Regions from separate parts of the Homo sapiens genome. Here regions 1 and 3 are each linked to region 2. Evidence: fine-mapped expression QTL. A gene starts in region 2. Each other region holds a variant in brackets. All regions are shown on one strand. Distances are between the middles of the regions. Region 1 has its middle 190 kb from the start of BMP2. Region 2 holds the start of BMP2 (bone morphogenetic protein 2). Region 3 has its middle 190 kb from the start of HAO1.

Region 1 (4,246 bases), 190 kb after region 2:
GTATTCATTTCTTTTGCCAATTTTTGAATTGGGCTTTGTTGTTGTTATTCAATTTTATGCGTTCTTTATAAAATATATTCTGACCTTTCTACTTCTTTTCAGTCAGATGTTTGCATGCTACATCAAAATGAATTCTCTTACATGAATTATTTTACTATATTATTATGTCATTTTATATATGTGTGTATGTATAAGAGTAGATAATTTCATGTATATAGTGTGTGTCTTATGTATATGCATGTGTGTGTTCATAAATTTTAGGAAATTAAGTTAAAATTTTTTTTGTTTTATTTAGCCATCCTCAATCAGAGACACTAAAATAATAGTATATAAACAACAAAAAGTAAGTAGTTCCTCTTGAGTTATTTAATTCTTGGTCATTTCTAATATGTTTCAAAGTGAAATAAGCAGTAATTTGTATTAACTTTAATGTAAATCTGACTTAATAGTTAAGATCTTGGTTTCTGGGGGTAGCCTGCCTGGGTTGGAATAACATTCTGTCACTTACTGTCTTGTTTAGTCTCTCTAAGCCTCACCTTCCTCATATGAAAGTTGAGATAATAGTAGTTACATAGGACTATTGTGGGAATTAAATGAAGAAACCTAGTGAAGTGATCTCTGCGGGTCTTACCTCAGAACCCACTTGGTGCTAGAGAATCCTTTAATAACAGAGGAAGTTCATAACCCCTAGAGATGCTTTCCTAGACCTGCAGGTAGAAGCCGTGGCATGGATTTTACCACTGTATTGCAGGGTAATCATCAGAATTCCTCCGAGGTAAAGAAATGAACAAGAAATTCTTATGGCTTGAGAGCCCAAGTACATTTTAAAATGAGGAAATGCCAACTCAGGGTTATTAAAATGTGGTATATTTTAAATGCCTGTGTCTAACAAATAAACAGTTAACGCACATATACATGGGTACACACAAACACATTGACTGTATATGACTTAACTTGGTGATAAGATCAAAAGTCTAAACTTTATGTTTTAATCAATGAGAGGCCTAGGCCAATCTCCTGCTGCCTACCACCACTATCCCATGATAACCGCTGGCAGTCCACAAAAATAAGACACCATGGCAGATTAGGGCTCAAATAAACATGTGTATCATTTACTCTAGTGGATTTCATATTCTGATGCCCAAATTTTAAAAACATATGAAAGTGGAGCTTCCATGGTTGAGGTAGGATGGGTTGTTGAGGCTGCCTGGCCCACCAACCTATTTCTATTAGAGACGTTGGGGACAAAAACATAACCCATGGCTTCATAAAACAAGTTTGGAAATGATTGCTTTAGTCTAATTTTATAGATGTCCTCCTGTATCCTATAATCTAAGGCATGAGTATTAGGGAGGAGTCGTGCACAAAGGTGAAAATTGCTAATTAGTGAAAATATACAACATGTGGCCCTGGAGAAATAAACTGATATTAGTATTTTAATTTTAAAGAAGTTGAAATTAACCCTGGGCACAGGGAGCTGTCAGTTCTACTACTTTATGTAAACCAATTGCCAAGCATGTCTAAAGTCAAACATGTCTAAAAGAATCAACTCATATACACACAAACATAAAAAGGTCTATATCACACAATTATTTTAAATAGCTGTAAGTGGTTTGCTCTTTTCCATTTTTTTCTCCTCCTTCTCCCCCTACCACCCCTATTTTTTGTCGTTTTCTCTTCCTTTTTTTAAAAATATAATTTTCTAAACCATACAGGTCAGGTCAGATTTTATTACCTCTAGCCAAAAGTGGTTTTAAGAATAAAGAGCAAAGAGCAAGTATCCTTATCTTTATGCTGTTTGACAGACTATGTAAATAAACAGCATGCCATAAGAAATTCTACAGATGGAGTTATCATAGCAGTGAAAAACTGCACAGATTATGCTCTCCTTATGGTATTTACTCATTTTTGTGTGA[C/T]GAATGTATGCAAGAAGTCATCATTAGAGAACATAATGGTCGCTGATGATGTATTTATGACATGGAAAGATGTCATGTGATGAAGTGTTTACAACCTATAATGAGGTTGTGTAACAATCTCTTTACAGCCCACAATTACATTGACTAATTCCTTATAAAAATACTCAACAGTATGCTCTCCATGTGCACGTGCTTGATATCACAGCACTTTAGTAACTGACACCTATAACTGCAAAATCAAGCAGCTTGGATGACTCAATAGTCTGTTTCCTATCCAAGGCACATAAAAGATCCTAGGTGTTTAGTTAGTATACTCCAATAAATTCCTCTTATTGGAGGTGACTCGAGTAAGTAACACTGGCATATGTGTCAATATCCTTAAGGGTTGGAGAATTTGAGAGGCAAATTTACCCCTGAAATAATCATTAGTGTAATTTCTTTTTGTTGTAATGATGGGAGAAGTATACATATCTGCACTCTGACATCCAGGAAAATATTTGTACCTGATCTTCCACATTGGTCCCTTATCTGGACCTTATCCCTTATTTCACTAATTAGTGAGCAATATGACTCAAATGAGGTCCCTAAATTTAAAAATGTAGGACAGAAATACCTTCCATATGAAGTTGTGAATAATCTGTATTGTATATAACTACAAAGATGAGTTAGACAGCTGGGGAGCTGGAGTTGTTAAGTGGCTAAAAGGTTGAGGTTCAGGACCTGAAATAGTCCCTGAACCTCTTACCAGGAAGTGAGCTTCAAGATGTAGGTGAGAAAATTCTGGAGCAATCCGGTAGATGTGTAAAAATTTGAAGGAAAATGAGAAAATAGGATGATGAGCAGACACAGAAAGAGGGGGTAGGATGTAGAAATACCATCTACTAAACTTTCATCAGAATATGAATAAGCAGTTGAAAGTGGTTCTAATCCAAGGGAAGTAAATGGGTTCTCAGACTAATAAAAATTAGTCCACATACTTTGAAGAGAAAGACAAAGTAGGGTTAAAATATTTAGTTTGGAAATATACAAAGAAGTGTAATGTAGGTAAACTGGTTTAAGAGTAGGTAAACTACACAAAACTAATTGAAATGTTATTATGTTGAAAGGGTTTAATTCTTTTCAACAGATGATGATAGACACCACAAGATTTTAATAACACACAGAATGTGGCTAATCCCATATAATAAGACTAAATAATATAACACTGACAGGAAGTGAATATGACCTGGTGATATGATTATGTCTTGCATTTACTTACATCTTTATGATTTCCAAAACACTTCTCATAACTTAATCAAACTTCAGAATAGTCCAGGACATGAGCTAGAAGAGACATGTTTGTTTGTTTATTTTATTTTTTAAAGGTAGAAAGTAAGAGCCTTAGAAGTAAAACAATCACTTTAAGGTCTTGGAAGGAATTAATGGGGGAGGTCATAGACTCTCTTTCCTCATCCAAAGAGGATGAAAAAAATAACCATTTCCTGAGGCATTGTGGAGGTACCGAGTGGCCCATGGCCAATCTAACATACCAACTGGAGACACTTAACTCAAAGCAGCTCCACACATGCAGAGAGGGCACCACAGGGAATGTGATGGTTTTTGTTTTTCTCGACTTGCTCCAAGACAAAAAACAGCTAATGTGGAAGCAAAACAATAGAGCTACAAAAGAAGACCCGCCATGAAAATGGTGTTAACCTGAGTTTCAATGTCTAGTAGAAAGGGCCAGCAGGGCATGTCCTTTATATGGCTCATGGGACAGAAACATCTCATTAACACCATCACATGGTATTTAGTCTTCACCACAAAATAATGTATTTCAACAATATCAGAAATGTCACTGGTTTTTTAGAGATTGATTATTCTACTCCTCCATGTCCCCCTGGTTTTTTCTGACCCCAGACCTCCAAGAAACTTTGAAAAGGACTCTGCATAAATAGGAGCAACTGGATTTGAACAGATAATTTGGATTTGAAGACTAACAGGGTTCTTGACAGTAATACATTAGGGCAATTTAGCTGAAACGCTCTGCTTATTATTTTGTCTGATTCTACCATGAAAGTTTTATAAAGTCATTTTACTTTGATTCATTCCAAGAAGTCCTAGGAATCCAACAGTATTCACAGAAAAGGAGACCAGTGGTGTCTTCACGGCTCAGTTGTTGTGATGCATTTTCGTCTGGACTTATGTGCTACTCATTTCTGAGTTACGCGTTTCATAATAAGCAAGTGGGCAAGTTTTAATGGCATCTTATGGTAAGGTGGAACAATGTCTTAGGTAGGGAAAAAAAGGGATGGTGCTGCTCCACATTTAGATTGCTATTCCTGGTATTC
Region 2 (4,246 bases):
CTTTCTTTCAAGCGTTCGAACTCATTTCCACCACAAGAGGGCAGCCATCTCTAAAAAAAAAAAAATAGGGCCAAAATTTATGTAAGTTGTGCTTGGAACAAGCATTCAGTAGTTCCTCAGAAATCATACACCCTACATAAAAGAGATTCTGCAATGGGCAGCACTAACATGAAACAGTGTTCAGAAGTACCCATTTTCCCTCAGATTCTAAACTGACAAGGTTTCCACTTACCAGGTTATGAAGTTCTAAAGCTGCAAGACATCCTTGAGGTCATCACAGGATATTTATTTATTTTTTCTTCGGGTGCATCCAATAGTTATCAACTTTTCCTCCTCTTTAAAAGCTACTTAAATCTCATTGAAGTTTTGTTTTGTTTTGTTTTTGAAATCTAAGTAATGAGAGAAACAATTGTTAACTTCTCAATTAAACTTGATAGGAAAGGAAATAATTTCAGAAGCCCTGTGTCCATGAGTAGGATATGTTTTATTGCCTCCTTGTTTGCGGTGCAATGACTCTGAGTGACAATCAACTTCTATAGCACCTTTTTTTTTTTTTTCAGGAAATAAAGTAGCATGTTCCTGAATAATTCCCCCACCCCCTTTTATTTTCCTGGTAGTCAGGCTTCCTCCAAAATACCTTATTTGACCTTTATACCTTTAGAAACAGCAAGTGCCTAATTCGCCTCTGTGGGTTGCTAATCCGATTTACGTGAGCGGAACCTAGTATTATTTTAGCTCCCCTACCGAAAAAATAATACACATGGATAATAGTTCTATTACCAGCTCCTGCTTCTGACTTTTTTCTCTCTGTTTCGCAGGCCCGATAGCTCTGGGAAAGCAGAACTTGGCCTTTTCCAAAAATTTTCTGCCCTTGGTTTTGGGGATCATTTGGGCAAGCCCGAGGTGCTGTGCATGGGGGCTCCTGGAATCCTGGGAAGGGCAGAAAGCCTTGGCCCCAGACTCATCGTGCAGCAGCTCTGAGCAGTATTTCGGCTGAGGAGTGACTTCAGTGAATATTCAGCTGAGGAGTGACTTGGCCACGTGTCACAGCCCTACTTCTTGGGGGCCTGGTGGAAGAGGGTGGCGTAGAAGGTTCCAAGGTCCCAAACTGGAATTGTCCTGTATGCTTGGTTCACACAGTGCGTTATTTTACCTTCCTCTGAGCTGCTAATCGCCTGCCTCTGAGCTGGGTGAGATAAATATCACAAGGCACAAAGTGATTGTACAATAAAAAAATCAAATCCCTCCCATCCATCCTTCAGTCTGCCACACACGCAGTCTACGTTACACACATGTCACGTAAAGCAGGATGACATCCATGTCACATACATAGACATATTAACCGAAATGTGGCCCTTCGGTTGCATATATTCTCATACATGAATATATTTATAGAAATATATGCACATATTTTTGTATATTGGATATATTTATGTAACTATAAATTTACATGCGTATGGATATGAAAATAAATGCATACACATTTATGTAAAAAAATTTGTACACATGCATTTACATATGTAAATACATACATCTCTATGTATTAATGTTTAAAAACACTCAATTTCCAGCCTGCTGTTTTCTTTTAATTTTCCTCCTATTCCGGGGAAACAGAAGCGTGGATCCCACGTCTATGCTATGCCAAAATACGCTGTAATTGAGGTGTTTTGTTTTGTTTTGTTTTTTGAAATCGTATATTACCGAAAAACTTCAAACTGAAAGTTGAATAACGGGCCCAGCGGGGAAATAAGAGGCCAGACCCTGACCCTGCATTTGTCCTGGATTTCGCCTCCAGAGTCCCCGCGAGGGTCCGGCGCGCCAGCTGATCTCTCCTTTGAGAGCAGGGAGTGGAGGCGCGAGCGCCCCCCTTGGCGGCCGCGCGCCCCCGCCCTCCGCCCCACCCCGCCGCGGCTGCCCGGGCGCGCCGTCCACACCCCTGCGCGCAGCTCCCGCCCGCTCGGGGATCCCCGGCGAGCCGCGCCGCGAAGGGGGAGGTGTTCGGCCGCGGCCGGGAGGGAGCCGGCAGGCGGCGTCCCCTTTAAAAGCCGCGAGCGCCGCGCCACGGCGCCGCCGCCGCCGTCGCCGCCGCCGGAGTCCTCGCCCCGCCGCGCTGCGCCCGGCTCGCGCTGCGCTAGTCGCTCCGCTTCCCACACCCCGCCGGGGACTGGCAGCCGCCGCCGCACATCTGCCGCCACAGCCTCCGCCGGCTACCCGAACGTTCTCGGGGCCAGCGCCGAGTGGATCACCGGGGACCGCGAGGCACCCGCGCGCCGCAGACCCCGCGCGGGCTGGAGCACCCGGCAGAGCGCGCCACAGCGCCGTGGCCTCTGCTGCCCGGGCTGCGCCAGAGCCGCGGACGGGCGCGCAGAGCGCCGGGGACTCCGGAGCCGATCCCTAGCGCCGCGATGCGGAGCACCTACTGCAGGAGATCGGGGGCCTGGGACGCGCTGGCCGAGGTGTGATCGGACCCCAGGCTAGCCACAAAGGGCACTTGGCCCCAGGGCTAGGAGAGCGAGGGGAGAGCACAGCCACCCGCCTCGGCGGCCCGGGACTCGGCTCGACTCGCCGGAGAATGCGCCCGAGGACGACGGGGCGCCAGAGCCGCGGTGCTTTCAACTGGCGAGCGCGAATGGGGGTGCACTGGAGTAAGGCAGAGTGATGCGGGGGGGCAACTCGCCTGGCACCGAGATCGCCGCCGTGCCCTTCCCTGGACCCGGCGTCGCCCAGGATGGCTGCCCCGAGCCATGGGCCGCGGCGGAGCTAGCGCGGAGCGCCCGACCCTCGACCCCCGAGTCCCGGAGCCGGCCCCGCGCGGGGCCACGCGTCCCTCGGGCGCTGGTTCCTAAGGAGGACGACAGCACCAGCTTCTCCTTTCTCCCTTCCCTTCCCTGCCCCGCACTCCTCCCCCTGCTCGCTGTTGTTGTGTGTCAGCACTTGGCTGGGGACTTCTTGAACTTGCAGGGAGAATAACTTGCGCACCCCACTTTGCGCCGGTGCCTTTGCCCCAGCGGAGCCTGCTTCGCCATCTCCGAGCCCCACCGCCCCTCCACTCCTCGGCCTTGCCCGACACTGAGACGCTGTTCCCAGCGTGAAAAGAGAGACTGCGCGGCCGGCACCCGGGAGAAGGAGGAGGCAAAGAAAAGGAACGGACATTCGGTCCTTGCGCCAGGTCCTTTGACCAGAGTTTTTCCATGTGGACGCTCTTTCAATGGACGTGTCCCCGCGTGCTTCTTAGACGGACTGCGGTCTCCTAAAGGTAGAGGACGCGGGCCAGGGCCCGGGGTGGGTGGTGGGTGGGAGGGGGATTTGGGCAGCCACTGCGGTAGAGCCCTTCCTTACGTCCAGGCCAGAAGTAAACAGACCCCTCTCCAGTCCACGTGCAACGGAGCCCTGCAGGGGCTCCCACTTCCAGCTGCCCCGGGCGACCGTAAGCCTCACCCTCCCGGCCCGCACTCTTCCACCCCTCTTTCTTCCCCTCTCCCTGGAATACTTTTGGAGCTGTTAACACTTAGATGAGGTGTTTTATTTATTTATTTATTTATTTTTAATTTTTTTAAAAACTTTTTTGGGTCAAAGAAATCCCTTTGAGAGGGTAGCCCCTGGGTTTCACCCGTTAGCTGAGAACCTGTCCGCTCTGCCATGGTGATCTCCATTCTTCAAGTGTTTCCGGGAGACTTGGTTTCTTTGCTCAGAGCCGTGTCCCATTTAGGAAAGTACTAGGAGTTTGGGGTTCTCCCTACTTGTTTCCAGAAATGCGAGGGGTCAGTACTGAAGGATCACTTGGTACTGTGTTTTTAACAGCTGACACGTGCATTAATAGATATTCACCATTTACGTAATCCCGGGAAGATACATGTGTATCTTGACTGCACTGTGGGGATGCGGGATGGAGCTGCCTTTCGAGACACCCCTGAGGGTAGGGGCCTGGGACACAAGTCATAAGTGGCTTCAGAAGTTGTGGCCTTGAGCTTACAGGGTCTGGAAGCTATAAGGGTGTGTGTGTGTGTGTGTGTGTGTGTGTGTGTGTGTCAGGAAGTTCTATACAGTGCCTCTAAGGAAGTCACATGCACCATTTATGTGTGTTTATATGCCAGACAGCGCTCAGCACTCCGCATTTGGGTTTGTATAGGGGACGCAGGGTGTCAGATCAAGCGGTGGTTTTCCCAGGTTCCCGGCATTGGCTGTCAGCGCTGTGTCACACACAAAAAAGTGACAGTCATTGGCGCTGGTTTGGTTGGGGGGGAGG
Region 3 (4,246 bases), 980 kb after region 2:
ACTATATCACCTGTATACAATATGTCTTAATAAATAATGTTATTGGAAAGAAAATGTATTGGCTGTCCAGAGATGGGACTTTAAGCTCTTCTCTTCCATATCTTTGATCTTTGTCAAAGCAATTTACTTCCTTTTGATTCCATTTCTTTATCTCCAAAATTAGCAATGTCATATGGGAGACTGGGATGGGGATATTTTTAAGTATAATTTTTATATGCAGAAAAGATTATTCAGAGGCTCATTTTGCATTCAACCAAGTAATACTGAATTTACTAATACGAAAACTTCAAGAATCTAGTTTATAAGTTATTTTGTGTTTAGCTTGAAAATCCTATTCTCTAGCAGTGTTTAAAAGTGATTGCTTTTAAAGGACCTTTAAATAATAGTTTTTATAAATAAATGTATTAAAATATCTTAAGCATTTTAACTACATTTTAAATATTTAGTTATTTAATTTTTACATATTTCAGTTAACCTCTAATTTATATAAATTTTATAAATTAAATTAAAATTTTGGTGAAACATTGATACTCTTAAATATTCCAATTCTATAAACAAAAAATTTAAATGATTGTTCAATTATAAATTTTAAAACTGGACTTCTTCTGTGCTCTACTAGGTTAAATACTCTTAAATATTAGAAAATTATAAAATACTAACCTAACACAGATTTCTTAATGAGATAATATTAATATTATGGTTTTAAATTTCCTAAACACTTCCCTAATTTTCTAAATCTCATTGAGGTTAAAAGTTACCTACTAAATGAGGAAGAGTGTCCCCATCCCAGTTAAATGACACTGTTTCCCATCAAAGATTTAAACCAAGTATAGTATTTGGAATTACATAAACTATTATATTATGCCATATAATTTTGGTTGATGCCTCTCCAGTATTGTTTAGGGTAATAAGGACATGGAGTTTTTGTTCAACAAGTTGGCCGGATTCTTACTGTAGACATGAATGGATGCTCTAAACTCAGTCTATAGTTGCTATATAAATTAACCCACAATTACATGAAGGAGTGGCCACTAGTCCAATAAATTTCTGGATTCACAATATATAACAAAGTCTGCAACTTCAACATGAGGTGATCTCATTTAAATTTTGCCATTTCTTTGCCTCTTAAGGAGTATACATGTCTTCTCCCTGGGCATAAAGAGCTCTAAACATGGTGAAATCCAACAGTTCTATCACACCTTATTCTTGGGACTGCACAACCATTATAGATTTTAAGTTACATCTTATTAAACTCTAAATGTCTGTAAGGACTTTATTTGACAATTCAATGATAATTTACATGGTTATTCCACTAACAAGAGTATAGACTCATCACTAATCTGAAGTTAAATAAAGTTGTACTATATCTAGATCTTCTAGAATGAATATATTTCTGCTATGTGACCTTAACAGTGCTGCCCACTTGAATTTATTTGGGTGCAGATAGTCATTAGTATGATGACATCTATAGGTATTTCTCTAAGTAAGCTCTGAAATCCTCCCACTGAAATACCAATATGTCAGCCAAATTCTCAATCTGCCTGCCGCACTCAACAATTGTACCCTGGGCACAGACTTAAATATTGAGGAATCTAAATGCAATGATTATAATGACTCTTTTTAGTATCCTCTGTTTAGAGTTCACGTTTGGAAAATTAGGGTACCTTTAAGTATTCTGACAATGGTACATTATCTCCAGACCTTAGAGGGAGAGACATATCTTCGTTTTCTTGGTTATACAATAACATATTTTTAAAATAATTTTTAAAAGGAAATTAATGTAGCATATATGTTTATGCAAACAGCATTATTTTTAAATATGCTTATAAAAACATATGGAGATTTTTGAGAAGCAGGGGTCATCTGGTCCCACCTTCTCTTCTAAAACTGGGAAGGCATGTTGCCTC[C/T]CAAGCAAGCAGACTCTGAGCTTGACTTCAGTGTTTCTGTAGGAAGAAAATGTGGTTCATCTCTGTGGCTGTTTCTGAGAACGGAGGTGCTGAGTGTTTGAGGAGCTGAAAGAACAGGTCACGCTGGAACCAAACTAAATACAAACCTTAAAACAATGAGCCTCTGTCTGAATGCAGGTCTTCTGGCTCCCAGAGTGACACCTTAGCCAACCCATGTTCTGTGACTGTCCTGAGTTGCAGGGCTGAGGCAAGGAAATCATATCCACACTCACAGTTCTCTAGTTCATTCTCTCTCTCTCTCTCTGTCTCACCCTGTCTCTCTCTCTCTCTCTCTCTCTCTCTCTCTCTCTCTGTCTCCTTCTCTCTCTCTTCCCACTAGAATATACACAAGAAACCGATACTCTTAACACTGGATTATGACTGGGAGTCAAGACATGACCCCTGACCTTGCACACCAGGTAGCTTGAGCTTTGTTGTTTTTCATCCTTATACTAGAAGATTTCCCTTGTCAAGATTTCCATTTCTTTCCCTTGTCAAGATTTCCATTTCTTTCCCTTGTTGGGAGAAATTATCCACAATGTACGAGCAGGTAAATGGATTATTGCATGTTCATTGTTTACCAGCCCACCCAAGGATTATTTCATTCTCTAGGCCAGGAGTCAAGACACTTTTCCTGCAAAGGGTCATATGGTACACATTTTAGGCTCTGAGAACCATATATTCTGTCATGAGTATTCAGCTCTACCTTTGTAGCACAAAATCAGCCATAGGAAACAAACAAATGGGTGTAGCTTTGTCCCAAAGGAACTTTATTTAGAAAACCAAGTGGCCAGTGGATTTTGGTCTACTGTAATTTGTCAACATTTGCTCTCCTCTAGGAAAATAAACCTTACTTGATTTGCTATTTGTACTTGATCAGGGCCCAGCCTCTGTGAGTTTACCAGTTACCTTAATTAAAATATTGATCCTATAGAAGTGCAAATTACTTTTTTTCTGATTGAATTGACAGTCCCAAAGGTTATGATTTTATTGCCTAATAGCTCTTTAAACTGTTTTGTCTCTAACTTCAAAAGTAAAATTTTATTTTAATATGTCTTTCCTGATAGACTATATACACTCTTAATCCTCAAAGGCCCTTTGAACCAGGTATGTCATATTTCTGGATGAGTTATATAAGTGAACTATTGTTAATTTATACTAGTTCACTAGTATAAACTAGTGAACTAGTTAATAAGAACTGCACTATATCCTATATTTATATAAGAATCATAGTTTTATCTTTCTGACAACTAAATATTAACAATCTGGATTTGAGGCAAACACACCAGCATTCTATACATGATACCAAGAACAAATATCACAAGCACCTAGGAGGGAAAAAGGCAGGCATGTCGTGTGAAGCCCCTCCCTTCTCTTACCAGATAAGCTCATGAGTTTTCTATGAGATGACATTGGTCTTTTCTAGATTCCTGATGCCAACTCCTGGGAATTCCTATGTCTTTAGAAACAGTGGCTAGAAAAACACAGTTTCACAGAGGTAAAATGAGGCAATTCATCAATAAAAATGAGGTAATTCACTAATATAAAGCTCTGAGGTATTTATTTTTCAGCTCTGCTATTTTACAGTAACTACTGCTTGTAGCAAAGATAATTCCTCAAAATCCTTTCCTTTTATGCACTCCATTCACATATAGGAGAGTTCGTTGAAGTGAAGGAATGATGGGCTCAATTAAGAAAAGGGACATATGCCAGTCATCTGAAATCTTTCTAGTTTGAAACAGAAAATAACGTTATTTTGATGATTGCTTTAAAAATGAGAAGAAATTTAATATAAAAATTAACTCTGAATTAGCCCTGAGTTTTACACACCATCAAGGTCAGATTAATTTTAGGGAGCATTCCAAAGCTGCACTAGTACACTGCTATCCTTTCTCAAGTGTGTAACTTCAAAAGCTCACTTCTGGTTCATGCTATGTCTCAAGCATCATTTCTACAGAGATAACTTCCCAACTCTATTTCTAGGCTACATTATTCTTCCAGGCATCAGTCTTCCGTTTGCAGAAGACTGACCATCTCTCTTTTCCTCCAAGCTTATTCTTCTTCCTGTCTTGTCCATACTATGGTACTCCCATCAGATGGCCTTCTTTGCTCAAAACCTTTAAAACTTATTTGACATTTCCCTTCACCTTACCACCATCCCTAACATCCATTCAGCAGCTGGATCCCATCAGTGCTCCTCCACCCTCACCCACAGTTCACTAGCACAGGTTACCTTAGCTTCACTTTCTTTCAGCTGCTCAATGCCTGGTCGGCTCCTTTCTCAGAGCCCCACTCACTCC

The links. PIP is the estimated chance that this variant, and not a neighbour inherited with it, causes the effect.
Region 1: its variant is the best candidate, but not a certain one, in a credible set for the expression of BMP2 in whole blood (INTERVAL, PIP 0.70).
Region 3: its variant is the best candidate, but not a certain one, in a credible set for the expression of BMP2 in whole blood (INTERVAL, PIP 0.90).

The regions. Positions count from the first base shown.
Region 1 is chr20:6,958,117-6,962,362 of GRCh38, forward strand. No RefSeq gene overlaps it. Among named protein-coding and RNA genes, the nearest start is that of BMP2, 190 kb to the left of the region's middle. The variant C/T (reference allele first, on the strand shown) is at 1,917.
Region 2 is chr20:6,765,620-6,769,865 of GRCh38, forward strand. It overlaps BMP2 (bone morphogenetic protein 2), which reads left to right and starts at 2,067. Exons shown (of 3, transcript NM_001200.4): 1 at 2,067-3,256. It overlaps LOC105372517 (a long non-coding RNA gene), which reads right to left and starts at 1,865. Exons shown (of 4, transcript XR_937229.2): 1 at 1,702-1,865; 2 at 781-1,186; 3 at 233-389; 4 at 1-50. RefSeq lists promoters at 1-3,121, 1,931-2,572, 1,962-3,121, cis regulatory regions at 1,035-1,825, 1,832-1,931, 2,572-2,746 and silencers at 2,011-2,060, 2,151-2,200.
Region 3 is chr20:7,749,278-7,753,523 of GRCh38, forward strand. No RefSeq gene overlaps it. Among named protein-coding and RNA genes, the nearest start is that of HAO1, 190 kb to the right of the region's middle. The variant C/T (reference allele first, on the strand shown) is at 1,908.